4 linked regions of the Homo sapiens genome follow. The protein of the gene in region 2 interacts with the protein of the main gene of each other region in a pairwise test. Each region holds a gene or a part of one and is shown on either strand. Other genes may lie near its edges.

What was found.
Region 1: the proteins of ZC2HC1C (region 2) and GOLGA1 interact in binary tests that used the Homo sapiens proteins (3 or more experiments, as listed by UniProt).
Region 3: the proteins of ZC2HC1C (region 2) and EMILIN1 interact in binary tests that used the Homo sapiens proteins (3 or more experiments, as listed by UniProt).
Region 4: the proteins of ZC2HC1C (region 2) and FGFR1OP2 interact in binary tests that used the Homo sapiens proteins (3 or more experiments, as listed by UniProt).

What each region holds. Positions count from the first base shown.
Region 1 is NC_000009.12:124,938,083-124,945,790, forward strand, and holds the start of GOLGA1 (golgin subfamily A member 1), read right to left. Parts: upstream 3,002-7,708; 5' UTR 2,889-3,001; exon of another isoform or gene 2,758-2,888; intron 2,724-2,757; exon of another isoform or gene 2,284-2,723; intron 2,074-2,283; 5' UTR 2,024-2,073; intron 785-2,023; 5' UTR 630-784; coding exon 495-629; intron 1-494. UniProt on the Homo sapiens protein: Involved in vesicular trafficking at the Golgi apparatus level. Involved in endosome-to-Golgi trafficking. Mechanistically, captures transport vesicles arriving from endosomes via the protein TBC1D23.
Region 2 is NC_000014.9:75,072,621-75,079,640, reverse strand, and holds part of ZC2HC1C (zinc finger C2HC domain-containing protein 1C), read right to left. Parts: intron 2,110-7,020; coding exon 2,077-2,109; 3' UTR 1-2,076.
Region 3 is NC_000002.12:27,073,699-27,081,634, reverse strand, and holds the start of EMILIN1 (EMILIN-1 precursor), read right to left. Parts: upstream 3,021-7,936; 5' UTR 2,570-3,020; coding exon 2,400-2,569; intron 1,485-2,399; coding exon 1,365-1,484; intron 904-1,364; coding exon 683-903; intron 1-682. UniProt on the Homo sapiens protein: Involved in elastic and collagen fibers formation. It is required for EFEMP2 deposition into the extracellular matrix, and collagen network assembly and cross-linking via protein-lysine 6-oxidase/LOX activity.
Region 4 is NC_000012.12:26,933,749-26,941,489, forward strand, and holds the start of FGFR1OP2 (FGFR1 oncogene partner 2), read left to right. Parts: upstream 1-4,721; 5' UTR 4,722-4,962; intron 4,963-7,741. Other genes in the region: INTS13 (integrator complex subunit 13), read right to left, coding at 808-882, 2,831-3,055. UniProt on the Homo sapiens protein: May be involved in wound healing pathway.

The sequences.
Region 1 (7,708 bases), on a different chromosome or scaffold from region 2:
AAAAAAAAAAAAAAAAGAAAGAAAAAAGAAAAAAAGCAACATACTGTAATCACTGGGGCCATCTTTCCAACAATCGTCCCAATACAACAATGCACTCTTGCTAACCCCATACCACAACTCAGAGACCTTGTTAAGCAGCAATGACTTAGTTGTTATATAAGTATATATGTCTGCAATGAAAACAGGCCCAGACATTTTCAGAAATGAAATGCAAAAGAAGATGTATAAGGTATATAGACGGAAAAACAGTACAAGAGGACACTGGAGAGAATATGGAGAGGAACTCACAGAAAAATAAGGAAAAAAATATAGAGTACCTTAACATTTACAAACCAAACATTAACAAAAAGGTACCTCAGAGTAAGAAGAATCAGATGTACAGGCTCTTGTACAGCTATAAACCATGAAAGGTATGAAATAATCAAGCAATTTAAAATATTTATTGGAAGAATACCCTGCAAAAGTATCTTTATTTCTTAAGTAAAGGTACTTACAAAGTCATCTCCTGAGTCAGCTCCCATTGAGGCAACTGATTCCTTGCTCACAGACCGTGGGATCCTAGTAGCACCTCCTGGCCTCTGAGCAACAGCAGTCTCTTCTGCAATTTTCTTCTTCAGTTTTGCAAACATGTTTGCTGTGTGGCTATCCTGCACAGATGACGAGCTCTCAGTAGTCCTGGTGCCTGTGTTCAGGATTCAGACAGAGGCGCCTACAAAGTTTCAGACATCCAAGCTAGCTGCATTCCCACTTAAATGTGGGCCAAGGGCTTATGGCAACACAGGATCTACAAATCAGATGAAAGAGACAGTTCAAAAGTTAAACATTGGAAAGATTTCGCATCTGAGTTGTTAAGTTTTAGATTTCAAAACTAAGTTTCATAACTTACATGTACACTTATAGAACACAATTACTAAACATTTAAAAAGCACTCAGGTGCTTCATATGCATATACAGATGAAGAAACCCAGTCTCAAGAAGATGAAGTAACCTACCAAAGATTGTGTGGCTAAGTGGAAGGGCTGGTATTTGAACAGAGGACTCTGATTCACAAATCTCTACGTTTTTTTTTTTTAATTACATGTTGGCTATGACATATAACACACTTGGTAAAATGTCCCAGAGCAGACATCAACATCATATATTCATGACTTAATGATTTCAAATCCTTCCTCCAATAAGCTTAACTACAGTTTAGTGTTCTTTAAGTTGAAGACAAAAATGCATGTAATTCAATTCATATGTAATTCAATATTCAATATGTAATTCAATATGTAAAAGGTGTAATATCCTACTGTTTCAGGATGGTTTGCAATCAACTGTCCAATAGGAAAAGCTGGTAACAGAAAAAAGAAGACACACCAGACAACTCTATTATATAAGTATCTGATATCCTTGAACATTTTCTAGAGACGCTGTGTGGTTTTGAGTTTGATAAAATTACCTCCAATGAGTTTATTTTCTTTCTTTCTTTTTTTTTTTTTTTTTTTTTTTTTTTTTGAGATGGAGTTTCGCTCTTGTTGCCTAAGCTGGAATGCAATGGCACTATCTCGGCTCACCGCAACCTCCACCTCCTGGGTTCAAGCGATTCTCCTGCCTCAGCCTCCCGAGTAGCTGGGATTACAGGAATGCGCCACTATGCCCGGCTTATTTTATATTTTTAGTAGAGACGAGGTTTCTCCGTGTTGGTCAGGCTGGTCTCAAACTCTTGACCTCAGATGATCCACCTGCATTGGCCTCCCAAAGTGCTGGGATTACAGGCATAAGCCACTGCGCCCGGCCTCACAGTTTCTTTTCTTAAGAATGTTTGACATGATATTCAAAGTAAGATTCAAAAACCTTTTCCTCCTAATGGTGTATAAAACACTAATATTCTGGTTCCAACCTTAACTTTCCATGTTTTGTGGAGGATACCTAAGCTCTGCTCTGAGATACACAAATGCCATCTTACCACTTCAGATCCTCCATTAAGGCTGTACAATTCTTCAGAAACTTTACTTTCAATGTGTGTAAACCACTTACTCACCTGGCTTATCTACTAGATTTAAAACAGCTTGGAGGTCAAAGCATTCTGTCCTGCATGAAGACAAAGATAAAATGCATTGGGTATTTCTTTTCAAGTGTATGGCCAAAATGTTGGGTGGGGATAGGGGGAAGAAGTGAAGGAAGAGGAGGGGCAGAAGAAGGATTAAAGGGGGTAAGAAAACCTGTCACAACTCTCAATGGGATACCCTCCCTAACCCTGATCTCCTATGAAATTGTTTTTTGCCTAAGAGCTTCACTTACAAGCGCATAGAACAGAATTGATCACCGCAGCGGGTGCCTAAATTCACTTCTCCCTGGGAGCCCTGAGCAAAACAATTTGAATGAGGTTAAGTTTTCCTGGAGCCAGTATTTATTTCTCAGTTGATTACTACACTCACATACTGTTTACCCGGCCAGACCCTGGGCGTCTGGTCACGGATGTGCACTGACAAAAAGCAAGGCAAAATTGGGTAAAGACAGATGTCTAACCCCCAGGGAGGCAGGCAGGTGCCTGCCACGGCAGTTTGGATCTCACTCCCTCAGGCTACCTCCAGCCCCGCCCGTGCTTTGGACTGTCAAAGAAAGGAAGGATCCAACATCTCTCCCATTTGACAGCAAGGAAACTGAGCCCTAGAGAGGAGGAGCGACTTGTCCAAGGTCGCGCAGGGAGGAATCCCGGAACCCTAGGCTCCAGACTCCCAGGCCGGGGCAGCCCGCCTCCGCCCCCACTCTCACCCTTTCAGCACCCCGGTGCCGCCCCCCGCCTTGGGGCTCGGGCAACCCTGACCGGGCCGCTGTGGGGACAGACCGAGGCCACTGGGAGAATAAGGGGCCTGCTCGCATTCCCGGAGTCCTGGCCCGCGCACCTGCCTCTCTCTGGGAAGCCAGCAAAGCCCCGCCTCCCGGGCCTCTCGTGAGCCCCGGCCCGCGTCACCAACCCCCACCGCCCAGCCGGCGAGCCGAGCAGCGACCCGGAACCGCACGTCTCCCAGCGCGCCGGAAGTGACTGCGCGGTGGGGGGAGGGGGTTGGTCCGACGCGCGCATGCGCCCGTGCGCGGCCTTGGCGGCTACTGTTACCACCTCTGAGCGGCGACTGGGCCGGAACGGCTGGAGTTCTCGGGTGCCCAGCCGGGCGCTCCCTCAGCCCAGTTCGCCACGTCAGCGAGCGGCCAGAGCCACAGATGATGACTGAGTCTCCGAGGCCTCTCGGTCTTTTTCTATTTTAACAGGGGCGCGTGCAGAGCGTGGTAAGTGGGAGGGGCTTCGTGTCAAAAGTAAAAGAACCCAGTCGGTGCCACAGGCCCCGCTGTGCTGTGCTGGCTACAAACCCGGCCGGGGCTGCACTGCTTGGCCAGGCGCCCCCCCGCGCCGCCCGGTCCCGCCGCACCCTAGGCAGCTGCCTTGCCACCGTGTGACCCGGGAAGTCTGCGCCTCCAGCTTCACTCACAAGCCAGTAGCTCCAGAAACTAGTCCTGGGACCTTACACCTTGAGACCAGTTTTTAGACTTTGGCGCCTGTCACCTACTGTAGATGATGCGTTTTATATCGCAACCGAGTACATAACGTCCAGCAGAACCACGTTCTTACTATGTAATGCACTTAAAAACGCTGGTGGCAGCTCACTATATTGGATTAGCTTCACCATCCGCTGCTGGGCCGTCTCCTTTCTGCTTAGGAAGGAAGTTGAAAACATCAAAAGTGCACGGCGCGCGCTTCTGTGGTCCCAGCTACTCGGAAGACCGAGGTGGGAGGATCTCTTGAGACCAGGGCTTCCAGACCAGCCTGGGCACCGTGGCGAGACTCCGTCTCTTTAAATAAATAGCAATCATGCAGGCAGTAGGAAAATAAACAAAAGAGGAAAAACTATCTTGTTCCAAGTCACAGTCCAGGCCGGGCGCGGTGGCTCACTCCTGTAATCCCCACACTTTGAGAAGCCGAGGCGGGTGGTTCACCCGAGGTCAGGAGTTCAGACCAGCCTAACATAGCGAAACCTCGTCTCTACTAAAAATACAAAATTAGCCGGGCATGGTGGCCCATGCCTGTAATCCCAATTACTTGGGAGGCTGAGGCAGGATAATCGCTTGAACCCGGGAGGTGTAGGTTGCAGTGAGTCAAGATCGCGCCATTGCACTCCAGCCTGGGCAACAAGAGCGAAACTCTATCTCAAACAAAAAGTCACGGTCCAAATCAGTACCCTAAGTCAGGTCCCTGAACTCGTCAATGCCAAGCCAGCCATTCCACCTTAAGGAACTCTGGTTCCATCCCCAGACTCAACACAAGCCCAAGAATAAGCAGATTCCACCCAATTCTTCAACAGTCCCTTCCCTCGCGTGTTCCAGTTCTGACCTGCAGGAGCAGGGCAGGGAAAAAACCAAAACCAGGATTCAAACATTGACAAACTAACAAGAAGCATCAACCCCAAGATAGTTCAAAGCCTCTGAGATATTTGAATGAAGCAAACCCTAACAGTTCAGCTGTCAATACCGAAAAAGTACCAAAAACTTTAAGCAAATAATGTTTATTTTTATATTGATGATACACTTAATATATATGTGGATTCAAGGTACAAAATTCATGTACAAGAGTTCACACCTGATGAATGTAGACACATTCCTAGAGAACATTTATCAATGTGAAAATTTCTTTAATACACTGACAACAAAAATCAAATATTCTCTAATCTCGTTATTCAATAAACATCAAAACAACGTTTCAGTTTTCATCCTCTAGTACTGAAGTGCCCTCAAGGTGGTAGGCACTGTATAGCAGGAGAAAACATTGGAAAGCCTACTGAATCCGCTCTGCAGAATCACAGTGTTTACTCTGAAATTCATTTAGTGAAGTAGTGGAAGGCTATCTTTTATGACAAATCACATCTCATACAAGAGTCAAAAGTGATGAACTCAAGAAAATAAAATGTTTCAAGAACTTCTCAATTTCTAAAATCTATGGAGTATTAACCATAACAGACAAAGAAGAAAAAGGCTGCTGGAAAGGAAGAAAAAAACATCCTGTTTAAGAGAACGTATGGCTTAAGCAATTTAGAACACAACTGACAAGACTTTTACAATACCACAAATGTTCAAGTCAAATGATAGTGACAGTATAATTTTCCCCTTAGTCATTGGTAGTAAATAGCCCCTTCAAAATTTATTCTACTGTTAACACATATAAAAACTATGAATCCAAACAGTTTTGCTAACGGGGCTGAGTTGATGGATTTTTTTCTAAAGTATTAACTCACAATATCCAAATATTAATACAAATGAACGACAAGATTGTTTCAAAGATTACAGTGATTTGTGAATAGCTAAATAGGCAACCAAATAGCTTCATTATTTGCACGACAGATTAGCAGCACTTGGATAAGAATTGTTACATGAAAAATATTGTGCTTCAGTCTCTTGAGGAGAGCTAATATAACTCTATAATCCCTATAGTGTTAAAATTCTATAACATTTCAGTTACAGACAAGCACAATTGTTAAAAAGTATTTCACACCACTAGAAAATCGAGTAATTATATCCTCCAAATGAATTACTTCTATGATTTAAACAAGTGCATTTCTGCCTAATAATCAGAATGTAGACAATAAGTTCAGCATTATTTTCAAGGGAAAAAGATCAAACATAACTTATTTTAACTCCTATTTGATTATCTTAACCTTTAGTGATGATTAGAACTTAAAAAAGGGAAACTCAACCTTCCAATGGAAACTGCTCAGAGGAAATAATAAAGTGTCCTGAAATTACAATAATTCTTAGCACAAAGTAAAAAGTGATTTATAACTGCTTCATCTGATTCAATGATTAATGAAATCACTATTTATACTGGTGCTACACAACGAAGATAACCTATATGGATAAGTTATTTTACTTGTAAACTCTACTATGAAAATGTTAGGACTTTGTATTTGCCTTTCCTATTATCTAAGATGTTTCTACCTCAACTGGAAGAATCATCCAAAATCTAAAGGTTTCTCTGATTGTTGAACAGCAAGGTTTATTAAAAATAAGCAAAAAAGTTGGAGAACTAGCCATATGGTCTATGTGGCAAAAGGAATGCATTCAGATAACTATAAAAAGCCACATAAATCAAGTTCTAGATTATTGTACTGAACCATTAGAAGGTCTTTTTAATGATACAGTAACAAGTTAACAAAAACCATTCTTCAGGAAATAGTAATAAAAATTCCTTTTTTTTTTTTTTTTGAGAATGAGTCTTGCTCTGTCACCCAGACTGGAGTGCAATGGCACGATCTCGGCTCACTGCAACCTCCGCCTCCCAGGTTACAAGCAGTTCTCCTGCCTCAGCCTCCCAAGTAGCTGGGATTACAGGCGCACACCACCATGCCTGGCTAATTTTTTTTTTTTTTTTTTTTTTTTTGTATTTTAGTAGCGACAGGGTTTCACTGTATTGCCCAGACTGGTCTCCAACTCCTGAGTAATAAAAATTCTTATTGTGCTAAAACACTAAGCAATTTTTCCTGCAGATTTTTAATTTACCACAGTACATAGTTTTAATTTAGAAAAAAAGCAATTAGTAGCATGCTTCTTTAAGGGTGGAAATAAGCTTTTTAAAAATACAGTGGTTATCCCTCTATGGTTTGGAAGTATTTACTTTTGGGATTCTCATGTATGATCATTTCAAATTTTATACTTATTCATACTGATTTCATGTTTGAGAAAATTTATGGTTCAAATTGTAATGTTTACAAATCTCAACTTTTAATCATGGCAAAGTGGACATTCACAACAGCTTCAGAAGAGAAAAGAAAATCAGTGATATAACAAACATTTAAGTATCATTTACGGCAGCCCTATAAGAAGGCTAGCCATAATTCCCTATTTCATTCTGAAAGTGATATCCTATTAGCTTTCATTCCATAAGCCTAGGAGAAAAGTATAAAACCTAAAATTACCTATGTCTTAAACAATATTACACCTAAAAAGATGATTGTCGTAGTAGACAGACTGGAATTGTCCACCAAAATAGGAAATTGATACCCAATTTATAGTCTATGATGAAATTTAGGCTTGAATAAGTGAGTTTGTAGTTTTAATATAATGTACTTCAAACTATTAAAAAAACTGAGTCTATTGTCCAAGTATGTTTAAACATGGCACTGGTTAAAGTAGTCTGATAACTATTAAAAAGAATTTTTTTTAGGCCGGCCACAGTGGCTCACACCTGTAATCCCAGCACTTTGGGAGGCCGAGGCGGGTGGATCACTTGAGGTCAGGAGTTCGAGACCAACCTGGCCAACATGGTGAAACCCCATCTCTACTAAAAATACAAAATTAGCTGGTCGTGGTGGCACACGCCTGTAATCCCAGCTACTTGGGAGGCTGAGGCAGGAGAATCTCTTGAACCCAGGAGGCGGAGGTTGCAGTGAGCTGAGATCGCGCCATTGCATTCCAGCCTGGGCAACGAGCAAAACTCCATCTCAAAAAAAAAAAAATTATTAATTTTTAAAACCACAAAAGAAATTAACAAAAATATTTTAAAATTAAGAATGGTGCTTCAATCAGTTATTAAATTAGTTATACTTAATACAGTTCTCTTTATCCAATTAAAGGCATATCACCCTACATCATCCTGACACCCTTCCCGTCAATAGGTGATTGATTCCATTCACACATCAATTATTTTTCCTTAAACACAAGGCATGCTTAAGTCTTTTTG
Region 2 (7,020 bases):
AGATCATATTATGAATGCTAGGCCAGCGAAATAAAACATCTGTGGAGCAAAGCAATCCACATGTTGCCATTTTGTGACCTTGGCCACAGCTTACTCTTGCCATCTATTGCAATGTACTGGTTTACATTCCCACTTAAAGTGTACATTTCATTGAACTTGCCTAGGGAATGTACCTATTAGGTTAAATATCCATTATCTCTGTGTGAGGTTTCCTTAAGGGGCTAACCATAAAGCTTTATTATGTGATACCTCCTTTCCTTTGGAACAATTAAAAAGAGTGCAAAGAAATGTGTGCTCCTATTTAAATATATAGGATTTTTTCCCAGCCTGTGTCCTGCAGCTTCACCGCTAAAGCCTTAACTCACATTTCAAATTGGTCTGATCTGTTAGCCCAATTTTTTTTTCTTTTTTTTTTTTTTTTTTTTGAGATGGAGTCTCACTAGGTCACCAGGCTGGAGTGCAGTGGAAATGGAGCAAGAGTGAGTGGCCATTTGTTACTTAGTAAAATAGGATTTTGTTGTCTGTCTAGCCCTGTTGACTAGCTCAAATTGAGCAGTTTTTCTCCAGTATTTTAAACTAACAATTTGAGTAATACAGAACAGTAATCCTAAGATTTCTATCTGTTGTGCTAACTTCACTCCTATCTGAACTGATAATACTCTCGCAGACATTAACTTATCAGTTCTCTGATTTCACTAGTGTAGGACTCACTCATCTTCTTGTTTAATTTTAAATCTCCAGACCTCACTAATTGAAGGTCTAACTTGTGCTAGGCAATATTCTACACAGAGAAAATTAAAAAGATTTGATCCCTTTCCCTTCAAAGTTTACTCTCTGAAATAGAAGTTGACTATGCTATAATTGCCAAGGGCATGTGACACTGTGCAGTGTCCCAGCTTTGTTTTGTTTTGAGATGGGGTCTTGCTTTGTTGTCGAGGCCGCTCTTGAACTCCTGGCCTCAAGCAATCCTCCCACTTCAGCCTCCCAAAGTGCTGGAATTATAGGAATGAGCCACCATGACCAGCCTGTCTCAGCTTGCTTTGATGGTAGATTTTGCTGCCTCTAAACAGTCATTTAGCCAAACCGATTTGAAAGTAGAGTGCTACTAACAGCTAAAATGGAGGTTTCTTTCTTAACATATGAAACCCATTAGAAAAGAACAAGTAGAGAGAAGTATAATGTGTTTCCCCCCCAACACCCATCCCTACCCTGTAAAGTACATAAAGATCTTTCCTTTATTACACAGTACACCATAGGGAAGGTTTAGGAGACATTGGTGCCTTAACCTTACATACTTGTATTGGGTTTTGGCCAGGCTTATGCACCAGGGAGACCAAGGATAGATTTCCATTAATAATGCCTTATAGCAAAATTGTATTATCTTTTATAAGAGTTACTATCTGGGTGATCATGCCCCTCTGACACCAACACATCCTAATAACTCCAGCTTCTACAAAAGCAAGAGTTAACAGGAACTCTGAACATACATGCAGTGACAAGAAGGCAGAACCAGATGCAGGCACTTAACTAGCACAAACCACAAGTCAGGCATGCAAGAAAAGAGCTTTAATGGAGCCTGCTCATGACTCTTCAGTGTCTTCACCCATCAATTCTGAGGGCAATAACATAAAGCATACCAGCCCAAGGTTGTAATTTAGTGGGAAGCTGGGGCTTCCTTCTGCCTCCTGCTGCTTAGCAGTGGCTCTCTCCTCACAGATTTTAGCTCTGCAGGCAGATCTGGGAGCTGTTTGATTTCTTTCTGCTTTGCATCAAATTCTACTCCCATTTACTGCTGAAGAGAAGCAGAGCTTTCTGAACTATCCAAAAGTTTCCATTGTTGTCTGCTCAACTATAATGCTTCCTTAGAGGTGGAAGACAGTTCTTGATGGTCTTACACTTGGGAATGTGTTGCTCAGCCACCTTGGGAGCAAAGTGGTGGCTACACTGAGGACACTGAATGCAGTCTGGGTTTTCTGCAGGCAGGATGGGAGGCAAGTGTGAACAGTTTCCACCTTTGGCAGTTACCTGCTGGACCTCTCGAGCCTGGCGGAACGTATGGATAAAAGATTCATGCTTCTATCTCCAGTTGCTCTTCTGAGGAGGTTCAGCCTGTAATGTAAAAGGGAGACTGATCATTCAAGTTGGCACCTATCTCCTTCCTGAGTCTCTTGTAGAATAACAGTAAGAAAATGAAAAGGGTACTAATCTGCAAGGTCAAAGAGAACAGGAAAGGAGCAACAGCGGTAACTGACTTGCCAGCGTTGAGGCAAACCAAGGGCCTGCAAAGGAGGTACTGCTGAGAGGCAAGCCACTTTCCCAACAGAACCTGAGAGGTTCAGTGCTTGGAAGTACCCGATAGTGGAAAGTAAGGAGGTACAGGACTGAAAACAAGTAGGACCCCACGGCTCCTCCCACCTTATGCATCCAAGTGTTCAACACCCAAGCACACTCACAGAAGAGCAAGGATTTATTCTCTGGAGAAATTGAACCACACAGATTTCTGACTCAGGAAATCTAGACACGTGGAACTGGGTTAATCTTGGGGCTGAAAATGGGGATTAAGTACAAGTGTACATACCAAATTATCGAACTGTCAGCCTCCTTCCCCCACTCAGCCCCCAGAGTACCAAGCATATTGGCATCCTCATAGGAAAAAGAGGGGTACTCTGGATACACAGAACAGTCCAGAGAAAAGCCTTCAGATACTGACCTTGGGAAACGCTAATTAAAAGACTCACTATCTGGGAACCTTAATATGAAGATCCTTAGTCAATGAGCCCCACTTAAGCTTAAATATGAAAGGACAGCCAGGAATCATCAGATATTTGCTAAAAGCTCTAACAAGAAAAAGAGCCAAAAAGTCCACAAACAAAAACTTAGGAGGCAGCAACAAGGCAGGTGGCAGAAGAAAACTTTTTTTTAACATGAGACCATATCAACAAAATGAGTATTAGAAGAGATTGTGTCCATAAAACAAGAAGAGTATACTGTGAAAAAAAGACAACCAGAGAACCAGAAAGAACTATTGTAAATTAAAACTTTGATAGCTAAAAATAAAAATTATTTAAATAGAGGCCAGGTGTGATGGCTCACGCCTGTAATCCCAGCACTTTGGGAGGCCAACGTGGGGAGATCACAAGGTCAGGAAATCAAGACCATCCTGGCTAAGACGGTGAAATCCCATCTCTACTAAAAATACACAAAATTAGCTGGGCGTGGTGGCACACGCCTGTAGTCCCAGCTATTCAGGAGGCTGAGGCAGGAGAATTGCTTGAACCTAGGAGGCAGAGGTTGCAGTGAGCCAAGATCATGCCACTGCACTCCAGCCTGGGCGACAGAGCAAGACCCTGTCTCAAAAAATAAATAAATAAATAAATAGAAATGTTGTAAACTAATGTCAAGAAAATTTCTCAGAATGGGAAAAAAGATCAAGATGGAAAGTAAAAAGAAAAGATTAGAAAATTAGAAAGTTAATCCTGGAAGTCCAACATGTGACCAATAAGAGTTGCAGAAGGAACAGAGAAAGCACGAGGAGAAAATTATTGTTGTTTTGTTTTGTTTTGTTTTTGTTGTTGTTGTTATTTGAGATGGAGTCTTGCTTTGTCACCCAGGCTGGAGTGCAGTGGCGCAATCTTGGTTGACTGCAACGTCAGCCTCCTAGATTCAAGCGATTCTCCTATCTCAGCCTCCCAAGTAGCTGAGACTACAGGCGTGCGCCACCACGCCCGGCTAATTTTTGTATTTTTAGTAGAGATGGGGTTTCACCATATTGGTCAGGCTGGTCTTGAACACATGAGATCAGGTGATCCACCTGCCTCAGCCTCCCAAAGTACTGGGATTATAGGCGTGAGCCACAGCACCTGGTGAGGAGAAAATTATTAAGGAAATAATACAATTAACATTCCTAGAATTAAAGGTCACACATTTTGAGATTGAAATGGCTTACCAAGTATCTAGCACAATTATTGTAAAGTTTCAGAATTTCAAAATAAATAGAGAATCCCGTAGCCTTTTAAAAAAAAAGGTTTCTTGTAATGGAACAGGAATCAAAATGGCATTAGATTTCACAACAATACACTGGATGCTAAAAGCTAGTGGGAAATACTTTAAAAGTTCTAACAGATAATCATTTTCCTCCTAGAATTCTGTACCTAGCCAAATCATCAAATGGGAGCCTGTCATATAGATAGTGTCATTCATTCCAAGACAATATACCTGCTATGCACCCTTCTTAGTAAGCTTCAGCAAAGGAAGGAGTAATGCAAGAAAAAGGAAGACACAGGATGCTGGAAACAGAGGACCCAACAAAGAAGAGAAGCAAAGAGAAGTTCCAAGAGAATGAGTTTGCACCAGGCCTAGAGAATACCCAGTCCAGGTTGGAGCAGAAGGGATCAGAGTGGCTGAAGGGAGGTTTTCAGAATTAAAAAATCAAACTGATAGATTATGAGAGGTGTTTGAGCATTACAAAAACGTTAACAGATGTCTGATATCAGATGGATCGTTGCGGGGGAGAAAAAGACAGGTATGTAGAAAATGAAGGAAATGAAAACATACGTCCATTATTAATTTTAGGTACATGTGGGCAGAGACAGAATTTGTTCACTCATTAATGAACAAAATTTACTTGATCATTACAATGTGAAAGCTAACTACTTTTAACCAAAAATTGTGATTCGACTACAGTGGAAGGATAAGAGAAAGAGAACAGTAGGAGAGAGGGAATATGAAAGAGAACTTCACTCCCAGCTTCCATAAGAAGTTACCAGGTAGAACAGGCACCGTGGCTCACGCCTGTAATCCCAGCACTCTGGGAGGCCGAGGTGGGCAGATGACTTGAGGTTAGGAGTTCAGGACCAACTTGGCCAACTTGGTGAAACCCTGTCTTAACTAAAAATACAAAAATTAGCCGGGCGTGGTGGCACTCGCCTGTAAGCCCAGCTACTCAGGAGGCTGAGGCACAATAATTGCTTGAACACGGGAGGTGAAGGTTGCAGTAAGCCAAGATCAAGCCACTGCACTCCAGCCTGGGCGACAGAGACTCCGTCTCAAAAAAAACAAAACAAAACAAAAAAAAACAGGTAATGTAGAAAATTGATAAATCAAGAAAATAAGCATATTATTTGGAAATATGGAAAGGCAGACCAGAAGAACCATCTAACAGAACTGAAGGCTGCCTCCGGGGGCTGAATTAGGGGTTCCATTATAGGTCATTCAGTACTACATGTTTTTTAAATGCATGCAAACACTATTAAATTTTTTAAAGAGAAAAAAGACAACTAGCTCTTGGTGATCTGGCATTGTTAATGATGAATAATAGGAAGAGATACTATCAAAGGAAAAGAAAGGATCCTTCCAGAAAGTCTCTTGCCAAAACAGACAAGAAGGCAAGAGAGTATTAGCGATGGTATCCAGGAACCTTTAAAAGAATTCGAAGACCAGGCACGGTGGCTCATGCATGTAATCCCAACATTTTGGGAGGCTGAGGCGTGTGGATCACAAGGTCAGGAGTTCAAGACCAGCCTGGGCAAGATGGTGAAACCCCGTCTCTACTAAACATACAAAAATTAGCTGGGTGTGGTGGCGGGCACCTGTAATCCCAGCTACTCAGGAGACTGAGGCAGAGAATTGCTTGAACCCGGTAGGTGGAGGCTGCAGTGAGCCAAGATCGCTGCAGTGAGCCGAGATCGCGTCACTGCACTCCAGCCTGGGCAACAGGGCGAGACTCGGTCTCAAAAAAAGAATTTGATCAGGGGAAAGTTCCTCTCAAAGAATTTGATCAGGGGAAAGTTCCTCAAGTATATGAGATCCTTTAGTAATTTACTTCTTATACTCTAATTCCTATAATTTTATTCCTCATTGTACTGAAATTCTATTCAGTTAACACTTATTAAGCACAAAGCACAAAATATGTTCCCTGTCCTCAAAAATGCTTACAGTCCAGGAGAGAGACAGGGTGTACGTCTGCTGGGAGTTACGTGAAGATTAAAGGATACCAGGAAAATCACCTGTTCTTGAGTACTCTAGAGGAATGACAGGAAGGTACAACCACTCAGCTTCCAAAGGCACAGCACTGTGGAATAAGATTTGAGACATTACCAGGGTGGTGCAGGTGCATCTTAGTCTAGGTCCCTTCTGTCTTGGTGTCCTCAATGTCACACATTCCCACAAACTAGTTGCCATAAAGCTGGAGCATCTGATCTCAGGAACCTAATTATTTTGCTTCACCGTAACTGTATTTACGAATTTAAGAAACACAAGATTCTTTTAGGCTCTGGCCAAAAATAAATCGCTACAGTGGGACATAGAGTGAATTCCCAGTGGATTACTGGGTTGAACTGAAAGAAAACAGGAAAAAACAGTAAGTGGTGATCATATTATTATCTGCAAGAGCAAAATGCTGATTTCTTCTTTGGAAACTAGATTTCAGGGAGATGATCTCTGAACATGGATGGGACTTCCTTGTGATTTCTCCAAACTACTAAAAGAAAGAACTCTAATTGTAAACAATTTCTTCTAACAACCATCATATAAATGTGAGTTTTTAAAGGCTCCAGCAAATACACAGAAACTGTAAAGTGCCAATGGACAAGAGGTGCCAGCACAGCGGAGGGAGGGTTGGGAAGAAATGAAAACAGAATGACACTCTCTTATTCTTCTGGAATATTAGAACTAGATGGGGCCTCTGAGATCATATGATCTACGCTTTCCCAAACTTCAATCATCTGCACTTTCACTTCATCCTTACAACTAATTAATATTTTTCTGTAAATTCATGATCCCTGGAAATCAGGGGCTTAATATATTGTTATATTTTCCTAATATAACACTAAACGACGAATCAATTTTTCTAATACAACACTAAACACTAAAACTACTAAAATAAAGTTTGTCAGCATGCCACACCTTGAGAAATAACCATTTTATAAACCAAGTGGCACAACCTTGACATGTCATTCATTTATGAGACAATCTTCTCCAGATATGTCCAAATGTGCCTATGAAGTTCACCTAAATTTATCA
Region 3 (7,936 bases), on a different chromosome or scaffold from region 2:
GGGCGAAATGGGAGTGTAGGGAGGCACTCTGGATGCCACAACAGTAGCTACCACTGGGTGACACTTCCCTGCAACACCACGGGGACAAAGAAGAGGCTCTGTGGACGGTGAGAGTTGGCCAGGAGTTCCTGTTTGCATAATTATAGTAAGGCTATCTCGGGGCAGGGAAACAGCACATCCGGTGTGCAGCACGCAGGAGGGAAGGCAAGCCACAGGAACTGCTGCATGCTGGGACCTGCGGTCTCCAGAGGCCACGGAGGGGTCTGGGATCTGTAGTCAGGTGCAATGCATGCTAGGATTTGTAGTCTCAACTGTCTGTCCCCACGGACCAAGCTTCTCAAAGGAATGCCCCTTTCTCCTGCAGCTGTTTGAAGGATCTTGGCCACATGGGGCGTGTGCGAGCACCTTCTCTTTTTTGGCCTTCTTTTTCTCAGTCTCTCCATCTTTTGCGTGCTCTCTCCCTCTCTCTCACACAGACACACAAATACACACACACACACACACACACACACACACACACACACACGGGCAGGGAATCTCTGCGATCTCACTAACCCTTCTGCCCCTCTCTTCTCTCTGGCATAGAGCACGGGGGACTCCCCCAGCAGCCTGGCCCCACATTTCCCATTGCATTGGATCACCATTTGGAACTTGCCACCCTCGCAGCAGCTCCCACACTCACCTTCTCCCCCCAGTCCACTGAGGGGGCTGCCTGCACTGGAGCCAGAGAGGTTGGGGCGGGCAGGCCGGGCCAGGGGCCGTGGTGTGGAAGACGCAGGCCCCAGCGCTGGAGCGGGACTCTCAGCACAGTCATCGCCCCCATAACCCTGACAGCACCTCCACTCCATGTCGGTCACTGTCTTGTAGGCCACACGGTAGCGAGGGCGGAGGAAGCGGCGGTACCTGGCAGAGGCAGAAGGAGGCCTCTTTATTCCTCCCTGTACGGTCAGTGACCCTGGTCCCTGTCCTCAGGGGTGGGCAGCTGCTGGTGGGCATGGCCTGTCCCTCAGGCTGGGTCCCTCTTACTGTCCAACATGTGGCCTTGCTTAGCTGACAGCTGTCAGCTTTTTGGCCAAGGGTTAAATCCCTGCTCTTCCTTCCCTTGCCCTGTGCTGGAACCTTGAACTCCTCTGCTTGAGCCTGAGCCATCCCAGAGAAGGCATCTGGGGCTGGCGCGTGAGGCAGGTTTGCCCTCAGTCTCCCACCAGCCAAACTGTTGTCTCAGTATCTCCTCAAAATGGCTGTGACCCTAGCCCCTGTCCTGCCCTTGCTCCCTGCTTCATACAGACTCCCTGAGTCAGCCACCCACCATCTGCCCTCGCCCAGTTCCCACCAAGGGCCCGTTGCCCGGCCCTGGGACTCACATGATGCTTTGGGGACACTGGGGCTGGCCCCAGGCACAAGGCTGGTACTTGACATATGTCTCCACTCCATCCTCAAGGACACAGCTCACTGTCCGGGTCACCACGTAGGCACACCAGTTCCTGTAGGTACAACCCCCTCTGGGTCCAAGGACCAAAGATACATGCCCTGGAGGAGGGCCCAGGGGCTACCAGAGGGGCTGAAGAAGGCTCCAAAGATGCAGAACCCTTGGGGATCAGTGAGAGCAAGGGCTTTGGCATCGCCACCCTCCCTATCCCCCACGCTTTCCTGTGTAGCAGGAGCAGATAAAGACTTTTCAAGATGGGGAGACGCGCAGAATGGAAAACCACAGAGCAGTCAATCCTCATGGTGGTGGGGTCCCGGGGAGCCTCTGAATGTACACAATCATGTGTGTCCCTTTCTGGGCCTGTCTCAGTCCCCAGATTGGCATGCTGTGTGCGCATAGCCAGCCCGGGCCCTGTGGGTGATCTGAACACTGGCTTCCACCCCACCCCTCCAGGAGAAGACGGGCAGGCCAGCTTGGGGTTAAGTAGAGAATAAGCCATTGATGAGCCTGCCCCTCTTGGGGATTGCAGTTCTATACTCCTGGCCCCATTCACTCCGGCCTCTGATCTGTGTCTGGCTGGAGGGCTGGAGGGAACAGAGCTGGAGTGGTGTCAGAATTATGGATTACTGGATGGGGTCAAGGGAGCCCTAGAAGGGGACAAAAGTTCTCCCTGAGGCTCTGGGGCTAGGATACAGAGGGCAGCTGGCAGGAAGGCCTGGCCCGCTCCCCTCAGGGCAGCTTCCCTGGGGCATGTGGGAGCGGACCCCCTAGGTGACCCAAGGAACATATGTGTTCAGGGGGTCCTGGAAAAGGCCCCGTGGGAAGGTGGGCATGTGAGGAGCCACCTGATGGATGGGCTTCTCACTCCCCCTCTGCCCTGCATTAGCGGACACAGCAGAGAGCCAGGCAGAGGTGGCATTCTGACCCCTTCCTCACCACCCAAGCCTCGGGCTGGGATCCAGACTCTTACCTGTGGCGGCTGGCTGGCCGGGGGGCAATCTGGGCCTGGGGCCCCCCGGGGCTGAGGGCCCCACTGGAACCTGTGTAGAGGCTGAAACCTCGAGGAGGGTAGCTGGCGGCCCCTGCAGCTGCCGTCAGCAGGCAGCAGAGGTAGCAGCTCCAGAGGGTGCGGGGGGCCATGGCGGGGCGCTCCACAGTGGCCCTCAGAGACTCATCCCGCCCAGCCACTGGCGCCTCTGCCGGCCCCGGGGATGCTGCTGCTCCACAGGACAGCCCGAGCCCGGCCCGTCCGTCCCAGTTTCCTTCTGATAGCCCCCGGCCACACGTCTTCTCCTTGGCTGCCTGGCCTGACCCCTCTCCCCTCCTCTTTCCTCCTCAGCTCCTGTCCGTCCCCTCTCGGTTCCTTCCGCTCTCCTCTTCACTTCTGAGGGGGTTTGTTCTCTGTGCCCCCTCTGGCCTCCCGCGCCTGGTCCCTGCCCCTCTCAGGAGCTGCGTCTCAGAAGTTGCCTCCTGGGCGTCCGCCCCCTCGTCCCAGCTGGCCCTCTTCTGGTCTCCCTGTCCTCTTTCCCTGATGACCGGATCCTGGGGGTGACAGGGCTTTGCCCCTGTGGCTGTTCGGAGGCGCGAGAGTGGCTGTGGGGCGGGCCCTGGCCTCCTCCTCCCTGCTGGCTCCCCTCCCTTCCCCCCTGTCTGGCTGGCGGTCCGGCCTCCCCCTTCCTCCCCCCACCTCTCCAACCATCGTGCGCCACATCTGCTTCTTGTTAACTCCGGGAAAGAGGGAAAAAAAAGGAAAAACAGAAATGTGGAGTTGCCGCCGGGCTTGAGGCCAGCCTCTCAGATGGGCCACATGGAGCCAGGGCCGAAGCTGGGAAGGAGGCCCAGGGCTGGTCACTCCGACTGGGAACAGGAGCCAGGGCCGCAGCTCCCCTGGGGCTGGAGCAGGCCTCCCCTGGGGGAGAGGGCCCCAGAGAGGGAGCCCAGAGGGGAGGGTGGGAGGGAAGGACTGACTGGACAAGGGAGAATGAACTCGGAGGGCTCAGCAGGACTTCACTCACCGTCTAGTCTAGCAGTCTCCTTTTAGAGATGTGAAAATTGAGGTCAGAGTGGGAGAGTGACTTGTCCAAGGTAACACAGCAAGTCAATGGTGAGGCTGAGAACACACACTAAATACTAGGTCAGTGACTTGGGAGAAAGGAGGAGAGGAGAATGTGCTGCTGGGCCAGGGAGGAAAAGGTCAAGGACTCCACTGAGGCAGATGGGAAATCCACAGATGACAGAAGAGGAAGAAAGGGCCTTGTGTGGTGGCTCACGCCTGTAATCCCAGCTCTTTGGGAGGCTGAGGTGGGCAGATCACAAGGTCAGGAGTTCGAGACCAGCCTGACCAACATGGTGAAACCCCATCTCTACTAAAAATACAAAAATTAGCCAGGCATGTTGGCACACGCCTGTAATCCCAGCTACTCAGGAGGCTGAGGCAGGATAATCGCTTGAACCCGGGAGGAGGAGGTTGCAGTGAGCCAAGATCACACCACTGCACTCCAGCCTGGGCGGCAGAGCGAGACTCTGTCTCAAAAAAAAAAAAGAAGAAGAGGAGGAGGAAGAAAAGCACCTGGCAATGGGGAGCAGGCTTCTGTCAAGCGGTAGAGGGCACGTGGGCAGGAAGAGAAAGAACCTTTCTTAAAGGGATAAATGAAAATGGGTCCTGGGCTTGTTTTGGTGATGGTCAGGCCATAACTGGATGAGGGTGGGGGTGAGGTAAATCGGGACCTATCTTTAGAGCACCAAAGGAAGTCAGTCCCTGGCCTGGAGGCAAGTCTGATAGCTCTCAGTGACAGGCAAAGAGCCGTCAGCCTGACCTGAAAGTTCCACCTGCGCCACCTTGATCTAAAAGCTTGGTCCCCGTCACCATCTGACCCGCAGCTCTTGACCAGGGTCTCCAGCTGGTGGGATGCTTGGGAGAAAGAAACAGAAGCACTAGACAGAAAGGAGACAGGAGAATGCTGTGTGCCAGGCACTGCGGAGGTGCCCAGGTAGCAAAGGCATAGGTAAGACCCAGACGCTGTCCACTAAGGAGCAACTGAGGTTGTTGGAGAATGGGACACAAGCCCCCAAACAGAGAACCGTCACAAGCCAGGACAGAAAAAGTGCCAAGGGGCAGGACAGAGGGATGATGTGTGTTCCAGCTAGGAGGAGGGAAAAGACAGCTGGCTGCTGGAGACAGTCAGAGGAGAGGCTGGAAAAGACAAAAGCTGAACAGCATTGGGGTGGGGGCGGGGGTGGGGGGCAGGAGTCAAGAACAGAGACAAGGCAAGGAGAGAGATTTCAGGCTCAGGAAGAGCGGTCTGCCTCAGTCTCCTCAGCTGTAACACAGGAATAACAGGACTCTCCATCCCACTTTGTGAGGATTAAGTAAGTCAGTGCATGTAAAGCATTCTAGAACAGTGTCTGGCAAATGGTAAATGCTCAATCAATGTTAGCTCTTTTTTTTGTGTCAGGAAAAAATGGGACCGAAATTCAGAGAGGTAGATTGTGGACAAATTAGGGAGAGGCTCAAATGACTGGTTATGAGGTTGTATTGCAAGTTTTTGAGTAGAAGCATATACACATACACGAAAGAAGGTATTGTGGGTGAGAGCGCTGAATACGGTGTCAGAACACAGGCAATGTAGCCCCAGCTCCTCCTGTCACTATGACCCAGCAAATCCCATGACACCACTGGGAGTCTATGTGTCATCTAAAGTCCCTTCCAAATTCTACATTGCAAAGTGATGCAGACTTGGGCTCTGGTGGTGACAGTGACCATGGATAGGCAGGGAACTTTGTGACTGCCTGAGTAATGAGGCTTGGTGACTGCCTGAGTAATGAGGGACCAGATGAAGGGAGACACGAGGGAAGATTCCAGCATTTGAGCCAGGATGGGGAAGTCGGGAAGAGAGCAGGTTTGGAGGAAAGAAAAGTGATCGTAGTTTGAAGATACTGAATTTAAGATGAGAGTAACACATCCTAGTGGAAACCAGTGTCTAGGATTGTTAGCAATGGTGGGCCACTGATTCTTCCAACATGTGCAGGGCAATAGGTGGAAGCCATGAGAATGAATGCCATCAAATCATCAATGTAACTCTGAACCATCTTGCCTCTGATGTCCTATGACCCAGAATGTGACCTTGATGGCTAAGAGAAATGTTTGTGAAAAGACAGGGTCAGGCGGGGTGTGGTGCCTCACGCCTGTAATCCTAGCACTTTGGGTGGCTGAGGTGGGAAGAGCACTTGAGGTCAGGAGTTTGAGACCAGCCCGGCCAAATGGTGAAACCCCATCTCTACTAAAAATACAAAAATTAGGCCAGGCACGATGGCTCATGCCTGTAATCCCAGCACTTTGGGAGGCCGTGGTGGGTGGATCCCATAAGGTCAAGAGTTCGAGACCATCCTGGCCAACATGGCGAAAGCCTGTCTCTACTAAAAATACAAGAATTAGCCAGTGTGGTGGTGTGTGCCTGTAATCCCAGCTACTCAGGAGGCTGAGGCACGAAAATCACTTGAGCCCAGGAGGCGGAGGCTGCAGTGAGCCAAGATCACGCCACTGCACTCTAGCCTGTGCAACAGAGTGAGACTGATTCAGAAAAAAAAAAGGGGGGTGGTGGTTGGTGAAAGTAAATGCTGGAACAAACAGAAATGGAAATTTGTAGTTGCCCCTTAGAGCCCTGGGGATCAGCACACAGGGAGATTTGAAGGAAATGTTCACAGGAGATCCCGATTTCAAAGAAGTTTTCGGTGGAAGGTTGCAGCTTTGTCCCTGGTCTCTAGGCTCTGGCTCTGGCCCTGGCAGGAAGCCAACCCACTTCCCCTCCAGATTGCCCCAGCTGCTGCTATGGGTTTTCTCTCTCTGCTCTTCTCCCTCTCTTCACCCTTAGGAAGCCTCTGGCAACCTGAAAAGTCACCCCAGCCATCTTGTCACTGCCCAATTGTTACCCATTCCCTCTCCTACCCTCTGAAATTCAAAAATCTATTGTATAATTTAAGTGTATCCAGTGAAAAATGTTGGCTTTGAAATATAGTTGCAGTAGGTTGCATTTCATTTGCCTTTATGTAATTAGGAGACGAGACCTAGGAGCTGTCATGAATGTTTGTGAAATCACAAACATATCAGTGGCTCTGAGTTCACCAGGGAGGATGCTTCCCCTTGCTGGCTTGAGTGGGCAAGCAGGGTGCAATGGAGCCTAAAGTTAGAGTGCAGTGGTAGTGGTGATGGTGGCAGTGACATGCTGGTGGTGGTACTGGCAGGCAGCCATAAATTTCCAAAGCAATTGGTAAGAGTTCCTGACCCCCCAGAAAGCTAAGTTGCTGGTGGCACTAGGACATGATCTATTTTACAACCTCTCCAAGGTGGGTAATTTCCAAGCATCTAGTGCCAATTGGCCCTACATGGCAATGAACTCATTCATTCAGCTTCACTGACTGAGCAAGAGTTCATGACCAGGGTCAGGACAGCCGTGGGCACCAGCAATAAGGAGCATTTTATGTCTAGCCTCTCTGTCAGAGGACTGAATATTGGGAGGGAAAAAGGGGGAATAATATGATTTGGGGCCTGGCACAGTGGCTCACGCCTGTAATCCCAGCACTTTTGGAGGCCGAGGCAGGCGGATCACTTGAGGTCAGGAGTTGGAGACCAGCCTGGCCAGCATGGTGAAATCCTGTTTCTACTAAAAATACAAAAATTACCCGGGTGTGGTGGCACACTCCTGTAATCCCAGCTACCCAGGAGGCTGAGGCAGGAGAATCACTTGAACCTGAGAGGCAGAGGTTACAATGAGCTGAGATCGCATCACTGCACTCCAGACTGGGTGATAGAGTGAGACTCATCTCAAAAAAAAAAAAAAAAAAGTGATTTGGGCCTTGGGTCATGCCAATCCACATGGGACTTCAAGTTTGTGGGGAGTCTTGAGCAAAAGCCCACTTTTCTCCAAAGAGATGCACTTTACTTTTCCTTTCAGCTCTTCCTCCAGGTTTAATACTTTAGTAGCCGACCTCCCTGAACCCAGTTCCCCTTCTCCCAGGTCTTGTTGCTTTCTCACTCCTGAGCCTAATCCTGGCCTCATGTCCTTTCCTTGAAAATGTCACACTAATCACAGAGATTGAGCTCCACAAGTGCCCCCCAGTCATTTCCCTCCACATCCTCCCAAATCCCCCCAGGATGAGGCTGTGCCTGTCTCACTTCCCACGTAGTTTTTTTATCCAAGCTTGGTTCGAGATTTGTCAGTTCTTAGTTAAGTCTAGTTCAGTCTCATAGACTGTTTTTTGTTTCAGTTCTTCCAGGCACTGGGCCAAATGACCCATCCAAAGCTGATAAAGACCCACTGACCTAGGCACAGGAAGTTCTGTGAGGTGAATGAATTTCTGGGTGGTCCTAAAATAAATCCTTTCCTTCTTGTGCCTAACCCTAGGACAACCTACTGAGTCCACAGTTTGACCTGGAACATGGAGTGGAGGTAGGAGGAAGAGGTGACACTGCTCTTTCACCAGTTTCTAGAAACTTGGTGAAATTTTACC
Region 4 (7,741 bases), on a different chromosome or scaffold from region 2:
AAATCAAACTGCTGAATTATCTAACACATTTATGATCAAAATATTGGGCAGTTTTGTAGAAGCATGAGAAAAAGCAGCAATGGATATTATGAAAACAAAACACATGAAGGGGAGAAAAAGGAGATAATAAATAATTCCAGGAATAAACAAAAAGCTATATAAGGAACTAACCATATATATTACTTGGCTTAACAGTGAATAATACTTTACGTAGATGTTATAATGCCAACATGAAACTTTGAAATAACCAACAATTCTGACATATTAATATTGAGAACACAAGGGAAGGGGACAGGCATTAGACATATGAAGGTCAGAAGTTCAAGACCAGCCTGGCCAACATGGCTAAACCCTATTTCTACTAAAAAATACAAAAATTAGCCAGGCATGGTGGCACACACCTGTAGTCTCAGCTACTCGGGAGGCTTAGGCAGGTGAATCTATTGAACCTGGGAGAGGTTGCAGTGAGCCGAGATGGCGCAATGCACCCCAGTCTGGGTGACAGCAAGACTCCGTCTCAAAATAAATAAATAAGTAGATAAATAAACAGAGAACTCAATAAACAGGAATAAAAACATGTTATTTAGAAATCTGGAAGTAAATATGACAACTACTAAAAAATGGAAGTTTGCTTGGGGGTGCTGGGTGTAGGGAAAGCCTAGAATGGGGATAGCTGTTTTCATATGACTTGGCATTTTAACACTATATGCAAATCCTAGAGTGATTTAAAAAATTAGTCATTTTTTTAAAAAGTATTACCACATTTAGATAATTTACAAATGGCCACAGCTCAAAATCTAACCATACCTCCTGTAAATTTTGGTCTTCTTGAGTCCAAGAATTTAAAACATGTGCTCCAGAGTCACTCACAATAAAATTCACCTAATAGATTCCAAAGAAACAATTAGTATTCAACTCTAATTTCACTCAATCACCAACATATTTTCAAGTAATATGCAATTTGTAACACTGTTTCACTGATTCATTCATTCTTCTTTTTATAGTTACAGAATGTGTAGTATATGCCAGGTGCTATTGCTGGCACTGAGTACATGGGAATAGAGTGATGAATAAAAAAGTTCTGTCACTCACAATGTGGGGAAAGTCAGGGGAGGGGAGTCTACTAGGACAGAAGGCACTGCGGGAAGAATACAAACAAATAAATGAACAAGATAATTTCAGAGAGTGATAAACGCTATGAAAAATAAGTTAATTAGCTACTTTAGATTAGGTGGTTACAGAAGGACTCTCCATAGAAGTGGCAACTGAAGGCAATCCAAAACCAGCCACCGTAAAGTCAGGGATAGACAATCTGGGTACGGCAAATAACAAATGCAAAGGCATCTAAGCATATACCCTGGAAAGGGTGAAAGTCAGAGCAGGCAGTGGGAGAGGAGACAAACTCAGAGAAAGAGGCAGGAGCTGGATCATATAGGGCACCGAAAGCCAAAATAATGGATATGGTCTTTACGCTAAGTTTTAAAGTAAAATGCAAATTTGAAAATTTAAAATTACCTGCTATCAGGTAAGATAATGACAAAGAACATTTTGGAAAACTTATCAAATGATGATTCTGACCCATGTTCCTTTTTGGCTAGAGGGTTAGATTTCTTTCTTTACTCTGGACAACACGATCTAATCTATGATCTTTTTCCCTATATATCGATGAAATACCAGTTTTCCTTCCTCCCCCAAGAAGTTTGATAATTGGTCTTCTCTTCCAAGGCTTATCTGACAGGGATATATTTTACAAGTCACTTTACGTAGATTTATCTCTTTTAAAGCTTACATCGAGGAAGTAAGTGTTATACTTACACGGGAGGAAACTGAGGCTTGGAGAGATTAAGAAATATGATCAAAGTCACACAGCTAGTAGTTAACCACGCCAAGGTCTGAACCGAAGCCTGCGCTCCAAATCAGTTACATTCCCTCTCATTATATATTTTTATCACACACAGAATGCACACAAATTTTAAGAAGGGCTTATATTTTAATTTGGAATATATGTGAATGTATAATATCAGACTATGTTCACCTTTACTCTACTGCCCTACCTTCCTCAGTCTAAGAATTGGCTAGGTCCCAGCGCTTCGAGTAAGACAGAAAGCAAGTCTTCCACTTGTGGCTAAACAAATGACTTTCCCAAAATAAGACATTTAAGATACTGAAATCTAAGATTAAACTTTAATACCTGTAATTTCTGTCAATCATCCATTTCTCTTCTTACTGATAAACCATATCCACTTAGCATTCTTAAAAGTATTTCTTTCTAATATGGCCAAACAATACAGCAGTTTAGTATATATTTGCTAAAATTGCAAGCAGCTAGCCAGCTTAGGTTCAAATTCTGGCTCTGCCTCTACGTAACTATGTGACTCAGGACAAGTTTCTTCTCTTTACCTCAGTTTCCGGATCTGCAACAGGGAAGCAACAAACAAGACTGACAGTCAGCTGCTACATGCCAGCACAGTTTGACAGCAGCTCTCAATGGTCAGTCTGTGTTCTATACTGGTTGTTACATACTTTGAATATTGCTTCAATAACTACAGTTCCTACCTAACATGACTGTTATGAGAATTACGGAAATTAATAAATATGAAGCACTTTGAAATATGTCTGGCACATGTAAAGTGCTCAATAATTGTTAGCTGTTATTATTACTGGCCCCAATTAAATATCCATTATATATTAATCCCAAAGGGCAGCGTTATGTACCACATTTTTAAGTAATAAACACACAGTCATTATCTATAGCAAATTCATATAAAAATTCATTTATGCAGTTAAGTACATCCCCAAAATCATGATTTTGTTTGTACTTCACACTCACCAGCTTTTTGAAAGGAAATATATCATACATTATTCTACAATATTCCATGGAAGATTCTACTGAGCAAGTCCACAATGATTTAGATATGGGGGCCAAAGGAATGATTCCTTGGGTTCTATTCTTCACCAGCATATCAAACTCGACATGCTGCCTGCAAGATTCTGCCATATAAGGGCAGTGATCCACAACAAACACTGTTTTATGAGATTCAGAAAAAATCTTCATTTTGTTTTAACCTGTAAGGGGAAAAACATATTAGCCAAATATTTGTACATAACATCTTACATTTTTTCTAATTTTCTCAAGAAGATTGTCTTTCCCTCAAGAAGACTTGGTAGGGAACATGAATAATATGTTCAAAGAAATCTGTCCGACAAAGGACAGTTTAATGAGGTCATGACCAGAAAGCAAGGGTATCAATACACCATATTAGGCTGTCACTCTACCAGGCCCAGACAAAAATACCAGTGCATGCATTTTTGGTTTTGCTTTTAAAATGAACTTAAAATTGTCAGAGGGAAACATTTTGACATTTAATTGTATTTGATTCCCTTACATATACGAAACATAAGTGACAAAGACTCTTGAAATACAACTTTATGATCCTTGCTAATTGACATTAGTCACATATAAACCCCAAGCCAGCATTTTTGCACTTCCCTCCAAGAAAAACGTTTGAAGGGGGACTGGCGGGTAGGGGTGCGGAATTAACAGGAAAGAGGAGTGACAGCAAAAGAAAAGGCCAAAACAAAGATAAACATCTCCTAAGATAACCGCACATCAGGTCTTCGCCTTAGGATAAGGACCCCAACTTCACACTCTCCCCTTAGCTTTTGAAACATCACAGTAATTTACCAGGTAGAGCAGAAAAACTTAGTTGTTACCATCACACTGGTGTGTAGAAGGAAATTTAAAACTTTTAAAACTTTTTCTTATTAAAACAGAGCATACGGTACTCCCCTGCTTCGCTAACAAAATCTTATACTGAATAGACAATCCACATTCGAAAAGCACATGGCAAGCAAAGCCAAAGTGTTAAATCAAAACGAACTGATTTCTTACGATCCAGCTATTTTCACCTCTTGCTTTCAAGACGCATCTCCCCTTCATGCAAAACTCTCTTTGAGAAACCTTCTAGACCCACTTTGCTGGAGGGTGGGGGGTGGAAAATACAAGGTGAGTGGATAGGGAAGACCTCAGGATCGAGGTTCGCTTACTTTCGTGCCTGGTCCTGCAGTGAAAACGAACAGAGGCTATGGACCACAGCCTCTCTGGAAAAGGCTGCTGGCTGGGCGGGGAGAGTCAGCGCACAGTCGGGAGTGTCTGGTGCCACAGACAGGGGACTATGCTTTCCCCGATCATCTCCTAGCACACCGGTCCTTCCCAGGCTTCCTAAGAGCAGGAGCGCGCGTGCGCGTGCACACACACACACGCACTCGGGCTCGCGCGTGCGCACAGCGCTCTCCGATAGCCCGGCCAAGCCTCCCTTCCCCCTCGTAGGGCCAGGCGTCCCAGTCGCCGAACAGGAAGAGGGCGGGGCCAAGGAGGAAAAAAAAAGCCTCCACCCCTCGAGATTTTCCACCCGCTAATTTTCCCAGTCACCCATTGGGAAGCAGGATCTGGGCGACCTGAAAGCCTCCCCAACAGCGAAGTACCAACCACGGCCCCCTAAGCGTACGACCCACCCACCCGGTCTCCCCTTCTCTGTCTCTCCACCCAGGCCGGTTTCCCCTGGAAAAACTCGCGAGACTTTGCGAGAGGCCGAGCGAAAGCCTGGGAAGGGAGGAATAGGGAGGGACATAGAAGGGCCCCGCCCTGCCTTCTGGGGCAAAGCGGAGAGTGGTCGGTTCTGCCCCACAGTAACGCGAGGAAAGAAATCTCGCGAGGCTGGAGTTCTCCGGGAGCGCCGGTCGGAGGCGGTCGGCGGAGGTGTCTACCCCGCCGGTGATGGCGTTGAACGCCACTGGCTTCCCGGCCTTCCGTCCGCTGCCTCCGTCCGATTCTGCGTCTGCTTGCTGAGGAGGCGGATTAGGGGGGCGCGGAGTCTCTTCCCTTGAGTGCATAGGTCCCGGTTGGTAGAGGGTTTGAGTCCGCATCGCCACAGCTGAAGGCTGCGAGGGACTAAGAGCAGAGTAAGTGGACTAAATCCAGGGACGGGAGCAGGGGTGGGCGAGTCGGAGGCGTCCTTTGCCGGGGCAGTCCTTCGCCGGGGCCGGTGCCTTGCGCCTCTTGAACCACCGGCGCCCGGCCCTGTCCGCTTCCCGCCGCGGGCTCCCTGCTCCTGGGAGCCGGACTTCCTCTCCGCGCCCCCCGACTCCGAGCTCCTCTTAATGGAGATGCGGTGCGGAAAGTTCAATGAAAAGCCTTGGCTCTAACCCTGTGGACACACCTTCCGTATCTGCTTTCATCCTGCCTTACCCACCTGCGAGTTCACCACCGGACGGGGGACCCTTTCAGTCACCTGTTTGCAGCGTTTAATGAAGATAACTTGTTTCTTGAAACTGCTCTCCAAGGGGTATTACTCTTTTCTGGTTCTCTTCCTGCCTTTCTTCTCTATCCCATCTCTGATAATGGTTCCAGTATCTGTCCTGCTATCCGAACTAGAAAACCAGGAATCATCATTGGTTCTTCATTTCCACTTAACACTGCACTGTATTATTTTTTTTTTCGCCAGAATTAGTGCGGTTGCCCCCTCTGCCCCCCGCCCTCCACTGGTTTCCCTACTATAATCCTTCCATAGAGTTATTCTGAAATACATATTTATCTCTGTCCTTTCCTTAAACTTTTTAGTAACCGTATTGCTGACAGCATCAAATCCTAATTGTTAAGCACATCATCATTCAGGATCTTTTACAGTCTGCCCCAATCCATTTTACCTTTTAGTCCTGCTTTAATATCCTACCATACAAGACTATACTGGCTATTTCCCCAAACATGCCATGCGCTTTGACAGCTCTGTACTTTTGTACGTGCGGATGTCTAGGATGTTTACTGTTCCTCTATTTTACCACCTGTCAAAACCCAATTCATAAATCATTGTCTTCTCAGACTCCCCCAGGTGACATTGATACCGCTGTGCTCCCAACGCATTTGAAACTTTTCTTCTGCAGTATTTATTAGGTTGTATTATTTGTTTCTGTCTCTCCTGCCAATTTGAACCTGGGTCTGTCTGGAATCATGTCTTACTCATCTCTGAGAAAAAGTCCAGTACTTGGCACATAGCAAGCATTATTTATATATACATATGTATGTTTATTGAAATGGAATAGTTCTAAGGAATTCACCGTAAGAGTTCTTCATCCTTTAAAATCATAGAATTTTGGGCCAGAAGGAACTCTGTACATTAGCTTAAAGGTCCCGACCTATTTTGATTATGAGAAACCCTGTACTTCTAATACACATGCAATTGGACTTTTAGTAATTGTTGGTTGAAATTATGTATAATGACAGAAAACTACTATGCTTTTAAATGATTTTGTATTTTATTTTTACAGTATCTATTTATATTTGAGAAATGGAGCAGAAATGTTTTAGACTACAGACAGTGCTTGGAGTATGTGCATTCAGGCAACTCTTCTACTGACTCCTTAGCCTGTAGGTTAGAAATAACTGGTTTAGATTAGGTTAGTTCCTTCTTGAACTGTCACAACTCTTTGAACATATGTATGTGAAACTTATATTCAGCCACAATTCTAAGGGAACGTGTAATTTTAAAAAAATCCTCCAGTGTCATTACTTCCAAAATCTTTCTTCCAAGTTTAAAAATTAATTTTCTTCAGAAAGTGTCTTTATACAGTTCCAAACATGTATTCATTCCACTATTTTCAAGGACAGTGAAAATTTTCTTTGCTTTCACATACAGCGATGTGCCTTTATAAATGCTTATTTTTATATGTAATTTATATGCGTTCTTTCTTGCATTCATAAGATTATAAGTTTATATGAAAACCATAACTATACCTTTTGGTTTTTTTATTTCCATATGGGTCAGTTCATATTATGTACTAATTAATATTAGAGACACATACCTGAACATGAAAAAATTTAAACTAGATTGTTGACATTTAAAGACAGATCTGTGGTGTATCAGTAGCCACAATATTTCTGTGTAGATGTAGTGGTAGGAGTAGTGGATTTGCAGATAAGGGAAACAGAAGTGTCCAATCAGTAAACATTCATTGATCTTACAATTAATGTGATGCCTAATTAAAATGGTTGCTAGGCTTTTATTAATTACCTAGAAAATATTTGAAATTTTTTTCGTCTTTAATTTCTCTTACATTTCATTTATATTCCTATTTATTTTCTGAGGTTGGCTTGAAAATTTTGACTTGAATTTCCTTAAATTTTTCTTAACCAAAATCTAAAAGTAAACAGCTGGCAGTTGCTGTCTTGGGTGGGTGGTGGTTTCTCTTTTATCAGCAGCAGAATGTTCTAAGCCTTCTGCCAGGAGTCTGACTGCAAAAGTCTTTGGGTGGTAAAGTGGGCGAGAATGTGACTAATGCAGAAAAGAAAAAAAAATTTTTTAACTTGCTAAAAAAAAAAAGAGATTCACCTGTAATTTGGACCCGCCTATAGAAAATAATGTAAGTAAGTGTATTATGGCCAGTTAAGGTAGGCACTATAAAAATAGGCCGAAAAGTTTAGAATATTCCTTTTTTACTGTAGTCTGTTTTTTAAAATTTGAAACTTGTTAGAGAGTTTGGAAAACAGTCTTCTTCCTCCCACTCCACTTCCTGGCCAAAAAAGAGGGGAAGCACAATGGTCTTCAAAAAAGGTGATAAAGTAAATGCATATTATAAAATATTTTAAACTTTTGTGTGTGTGGTTTCACGTACAGGAAATGAACATGCAAATTCTTAGAAACTGTTGTCACTGTGTTTCTGAAATGCTAAAAAAAATTATGCTTTG